Regions from separate parts of the Homo sapiens genome. Here region 2 is linked to region 1. The links come from fine-mapping of genetic effects on plasma protein levels. Region 1 holds a variant in brackets. A gene starts in the other region. All regions are shown on their reverse strands.

Region 1 (2,914 bases):
AGCATTTTGTTTTTGTTTTAATTGTATATAAATGAATAAATTAGGAATTAGCTGTTTTTTGTTGCAAGGGTTAGAAATACGAATTATCTTAGAAATCATGTGGCTGCAGGAGATAATTACGTTGGTTTAAGAAGGGAGGTTTTTTCACTACACAGAAATGGATTATTTTTAGTGAATTAAACAGTACAAATACAACTAGGATTCACCAGGAGGTAGAAGTGGGAACTAAAAATCACCAGGATCCATGATAGTGAATGTTTTTCACTTTTCTCTCTGTATCTCTACCTCTGGGTCCTTCTGAACTTTTCTTCCCTGCTTCTCTTTGCAATTCTGCTTCATTTTCCAGCTTCTCACCAGCCTTCTCTCTCTTTGTTCCTCAGTTCCAAAATGGCCATTCTAGTTTGCAGCCTCAGCCCCTAAGTCTGTGTCATTCAACTGGACTATTACCCCCTGCTAACTGAAACAGTCTTTCTGTGTGCCAGTTCCAGGTCCCCCAGAGAGACTCAGGGTCAGGTAGCCATCTTTTGTCTAATCAATTATTACCAAGAGGATGGGTCATGCATTCTGCACTTAGCAGGTCCTATGAGAGTGAGCACCCTGAGACAGGACAGATAGTTTCTTCTGGGAGACTGGCATGCGATTTGGAGGTGGTCGTGATTGTCGTCTTCAGTAAAACAGCATGTTGCTGGTACTACTACTATTAATAGTTCTACTACTATTATTTAACCAATGCAAAATAGCAATACTGTTTAGTTTAGCTTATAGAGGAAGAAGCACTATAGTCATAACTATTCTTTGTGTGCATTATATAAAAAAGAAATGTCCATTTTTAGTTTGGTAAAACAATGTAATCATGCCAGTAGTGGAAATTTTCAACAATAAAATTCATTCATAGTTCTATCACTGTAATCCGAGTCATTGATTTTTTCCTTTCTAGGCTTTTCCATAAGCATATGAAATTTTTATAGTCATAATCATAGAATTCTGTATTCTACTTTTTAAATGTATTATTATTCTGTGTGTCCTATCAAGTAGGTCATTATAATTTACTTATAATGGTGTACAGTTGTTTACAATTATAAATAGTCTAGTAAAATTATTTGGGCATAGGGCTTTTCGCTACTTTTGAATTATTTCCTTTGGATACGTTTCTATGAGAATTAATGGGTCCAAAAATTATGTTGGTTTTTATGGTTCTTGATGCATAAAATTAATTCTGTCATTGTAAAAAATCAGTAACAATTAGTAGATAGATCTTTTTAATGGCTGGATATTTTGATGTTTGCTGTATTTATTTTCTGGCTAGATGACAATGAGGGGAGCAGCAGTGATACTGCC[C/T]CTCTGTTCCAGATGGCAGGTGATGGAAAGGATACAGATGACATCAAGATCCCCATGCTGTTCTTATTCAGCAAAGAAGGAAGTATCATACTGGATGCCATCCGGGAATATGAGGAGGTAGAAGTGCTCCTCTCTGATAAAGCAAAAGATCGAGGTAAGAGTAAAATACCATTTGTTTTTTTATGCAGCGTAATATTAATTTTGCTAGTTTGATAACAAGAATGAGTCACAAAAAATTGTTTTGGGGGGTTCACTGTGAAAACAAGTAAAACTTTTAGAAGATGATTTCAAAATATATTTTTCTTTTGGAAATAAGAATAATAAAACATTTATTTTGCTTTGTTTTCTGAGTTAGGATGTTTTTAGACATATGTTTTTATGTGTGATTTGTAATTTTTGCCCTGAGTCTGTTCAGGTGATAAAAATACAAGAGACTGCTTCAGGAAAGCCATTTTAACATCCGGAAATGTTCACAATTTGATTTCACTGATACTACATCTTACATGTCTTTTATAAGGAATGAGAAGACATATATAGAATGTTGTATACAATATCATAGTAGTTAGTCTCAACAGGCCACCTATAATCAAATGACTGCTGTCTTGGTGAAGGCAATAGAAATCTAGCAGCTTCTTCCCAATGAGATCTAAGTTTATCACATGGATATAAGAGTTACAAATGGCTGTTTCTGAAAAACAAGATAGCATGTCTTAATTTATGAGAGTAGATAGTCCTCTGTAGGCCAAAATGTTTGTTAGTAATTTGAAATGTCTTTGAAACCCAAATTACAATATAAATGCAAGGCCTTACTAGTATTCTTACATAGTTTCACACCCAGGGATAGAGGAGAAATGAGGGAATGTGAGCCTTCAGATCTTGCTTGTGGTAGCAGTCTTTCCTGTCTGCTGGAGAGACCTGAAGAGAGAGCTAAAGTTCTCCCATACCCTTAAATAGATGAAGTTGCATAATAGTACAGGGTTGTTACATCCCCTGGGGTGTTTGACAGATATGTAGGAAACTGATTCAATTCAATGTGACTTCCAAGTGGGACATTTAAAAAAAAATGTTCGGTGATAATCATGCTAGCATAATCATGCTAGCCTAATTTTGTCTTCTTGTATTGCTTTATTCTTCTTTGAGATTCTTTGAAATGTCAATTATTTATGAGCAATGGAGTGAGCAAGTAGGTTGTTTGTATATAACAATGTATAGATGGAAACAGAACAGAATACAAAGGTTTTCTAGTCTTAAATCCTCTGTATACCTGATTTTTTTTTCCTGGGCCCTTTTCTAAACTCAGATCTTCTTGCCTACATATATGCATTTAGGCACATCTAACATAGGCAAATTATTATTTCTTGTAACTCTTTAATGCATTTGCTTTTTTTCCCCCTATTTTGTGCTACCACTGGAATTTCAGCAGCAATATTAAAAGGTAAAATGATTCCAAGCTACATTATTAATAGTAGTAAGTATCTTGCATTAACAAGCCTTAAATTATATACGTATATATGTATTTGGGTGTGTGTACACACACTCAAGTACATATATAATTTTGTTTCAGTGGATACCATGA
Region 2 (2,914 bases), not on the chromosome of region 1:
TAAGACAGCACTGGAAACCGAATGCGGGTCAGAGTCGGCTAAAAACGACTTTCTCACTATTTCCTGCGCTGAATCGGGTGGCCAGGGCCCCCTCACTGTGACCTTGGAACCTCGACTTCCCACAGGGCTGTTTCCTCGCCTGTAAAGGAGGAGGGGCGTTCAGAGACCACCTCATTCTGGGTGCTGAATCCAGGCAGAATCAGAGGGAGATTCCGCCTTCCCTTCCACGCAGGGCCCCTCGAGGGAGCCTGCGAGGTCTTAAGAGTCTGGGAGAACACCCGGGGGCAGGTGCACGCCCTAGGCAAGACGCCAGGGCTAAATCCCGTGAAGAACGGTAATCCCTTCCCGATCCGGAGGGCTGACCCACTCAGAGCCTCCATGTGCTCTTGGAGGACAAAAGCCCCTTTTCCAGAAGGGAGCGCCAAGATGATCGCTCCAGGCCGCACGGGCCCTTGCGGGGGCCCCAGAGAGTCTCAGGGGAGGGTCTCTGACCCTAACACTCGCAGGCAGGGTGGACCCGTCTCCAGATTCCACGCCCAGGCCGCTTTCCCCAGGTCCTGCGGAGTCCAGCCCCAGCAGGACGGGTTGGGCAGGCACCAACCAGCCCCTGACCCCTGGCTCCAGGCCAAAGGGGACGCTCACCCAGGCTTTGGGTCTCCCTTCTCCTGGCCGATGGGACCGGCGGGCGGGCCACCTCCAACCGCCTTCGCAGACGCCCTCACCCAGGAAGCAGGTCACCCCCAACCCCAGGTGACCGAAAAGCAAGACGCCCACCTCCCCTGACCAAGACCGGCCTGGCCAGGACCCCCTGGCTCCCGCCTCCAAGCAGGGAGCTTCACGCCCACACACAGAGGCCGGGCTCGAGGCCGGAGCGCCCGGGGGAGCCCGGCAGGCCGCGCCGGGAGGAACCTCTAGTCCCCCCTCAAACCCTGGGACTTCACCCCCAAGCTCCATGCTGGCGCGGGAAGCCCCCGGGGCCGGCCTTTCGCACCCCAGGCCGCCCCGCGCCGAGGCCCCAGGCTCCCGTCGGCTTCGGGTCGGCACCGCGGCCTCCATTCCCGGCCCCTGCAGGACCGCACCCCCGCCCCCTACCCGCTCCTCACCAGCCCCGGAGGCTCCGTGGGTGCCCAGCAGCGCGAATCCCAGCAGCACGAACAGCGCAGCCGCCATGATTCCTATTCCTCGCCGGTCCTACAACCTCCAACCGCTGCCGCCGCCGCCCGCGGCCGCTATAAAAAGCGGCGGAGGCGCGGACCGGGCGCGCGCACGCACGGCGTCATCTCGGGGGCGGGGCGAGCGCCGGGGACGCCGGTCGCCCCGCCTGCGCACGCGCGCACACGCTCGCATGTACGCGCCGGCTCCGGCAGGCTCACGCTACGGAATCCGGGCGGCGGCGCACGTGACCCGGCGTTGCTAGGAAACGGGAGTGGGGCCTGCGGGGACGCGGCTGGAGCCTGCGCATTTCTTCCTTCCTGCTTTCAAAGTTGCAATGAGCGCAGAGCGGTGCGCCCGAGGGGGTTGAAGCGTTGAAAGTGTGTTACCCAGATTTTATCTGAGTTAAACACGGGCCGGCCGCTGTGGCTCACGTCTGTACTCCCAGAGCCTTGGGAGGTCGAGGCGGGAAGATCGCTTGAGCCCGGGAGCTCGAGACCAGACGCGGCAACATGGCGAGACGCACATCTCTGCCTTTAAAAATGTACATATATATATATATATATGAACGTATTAATAAATTAGGTGGGAGGAAGTGACCTCCTCCGCCCAAATAAAAATACTTAAAGGGCACTTGAATCTGGATCTCAGAAAATGAATAATTTCTTAGTATAAACGTCCTGTGCACCATTTGGTTGGGACAAGTAAGTTCCTCTTCAGAAACTCAACTTCCAGGTCTAAAGTTGTCAATCAACCTTACCCCCTTCTTCTTTCCTCGCAGGTGGCGCGTTTACCCTATTTTAAAAAAGTTTTAAGTTTTAGCCAACCGGGATCAGCTTAGATTGTGGGCGTCCAACCCCAGCCAACAGGGAAAGGACAGAGGAACAGAAGCTCCCTTCCTTTGTCCCGTGTGCTCTGGAGATTGCATCCCACGCAGGCAGCCCCCTTCCGTACAAGTAAAGTGGTCTCGCTGAGAAATTTTCTAAGTGCTGGTTTCTCTTTGCGGGACCGACTCGCCGCCCCCAAATATCCCATTTGGATCCCATTCTGTTTCAGGAGAGGCTGGCGGTTACCTTTCTTGGGGAGACGCGTCCGACTGCTTCATTGTGGGGGCCTCAGGAGCGGAGGATCGGGTCCCGCCCGAGGTGACGCGTAAACCCAGACTCTCAGCAACGCGGGTAGGAAGGACCCTTGAAGTTCCGCGGCGACCACGGTGAGAAAAGTCGCTATTGGGGCGACACAGGTGGGGGCGTCTCTTGGAGGTTGAAAGTGTGTGTTGGAAGTTAAACTCGGAGTCGCAATGCAAGAGGACCGCAGACTAAGCCGAACGCGAAGGGCTAACTGGAAAGGGGCAGGAATGTGGCTACACTGGCGGGAAGAGCCCGTGGCGACGGGAGGGGGATGTGCAGAGTGGGTGGCAGGTGCCATCTCTGCAGATCAGGACCGGCGGGAAACTTGTTTACTGAGACTCAGACGGGGAGGCCCAGAGGGTGAGGAAGTCAGGTTGGCCTTGGAAGTAGGAAACGAAGAACGAGGGCGCTGAACGAGCCAAACCTTTGAAGAGGAACTTGTGAATGAATGAGACGCGCCATATCTTTTGTGTGTGTGTGTGTTGGAGTCTCGCTGTGTCACCCAGGCTGGAGTGCAGCGGCGCGATCTCGACTCTCTGCAACCTCCGCCTCCCGGGTTCAAGCGATTCTCCTGCCTCAGCCTCCTGAGTAGCTGGGATTACAGGCGCGCACCACCACGCCCGGCTAATTTT

Which allele goes with the higher level. Positions count from the first base shown, and alleles are read on the strand shown. Strength reflects both the effect of a copy and how common the allele is.
With allele T in place of C in region 1, the plasma level of the protein whose gene starts at base 1,209 in region 2 is higher (weak association).

The links. A credible set is the group of variants that fine-mapping cannot tell apart. PIP is the chance, under the fine-mapping model, that this variant and not a neighbour inherited with it causes the effect. The UK Biobank Pharma Proteomics Project read protein levels with antibody pairs (Olink). The fine-mapping took linkage between variants from a reference panel, not from the people measured, so its PIPs are less certain.
Region 2: it holds the start of BSG, and the variant in region 1 is the best candidate, but not a certain one, in a credible set for the plasma level of the BSG protein (UK Biobank, PIP 0.76).

Annotation. Positions count from the first base shown.
Region 1 is chr1:184,701,389-184,704,302 of GRCh38, reverse strand. EDEM3 (ER degradation enhancing alpha-mannosidase like protein 3) reads left to right here. Exons shown (of 20, transcript NM_025191.4): 19 at 1,307-1,492. Among named protein-coding and RNA genes, the nearest start is that of EDEM3, 52 kb to the left of the region's middle. The variant C/T (reference allele first, on the strand shown) is at 1,339.
Region 2 is chr19:570,891-573,804 of GRCh38, reverse strand. BSG (basigin (Ok blood group)) reads right to left here and starts at 1,209. Exons shown (of 9, transcript NM_001728.4): 1 at 1,104-1,209. The coding sequence starts at 1,170. It overlaps BSG-AS1 (BSG antisense RNA 1), which reads left to right and starts at 1,557. Exons shown (of 3, transcript NR_184018.1): 1 at 1,557-1,696; 2 at 2,209-2,365. RefSeq lists silencers at 869-1,048, 1,219-1,438 and enhancers at 2,259-2,308, 2,389-2,914.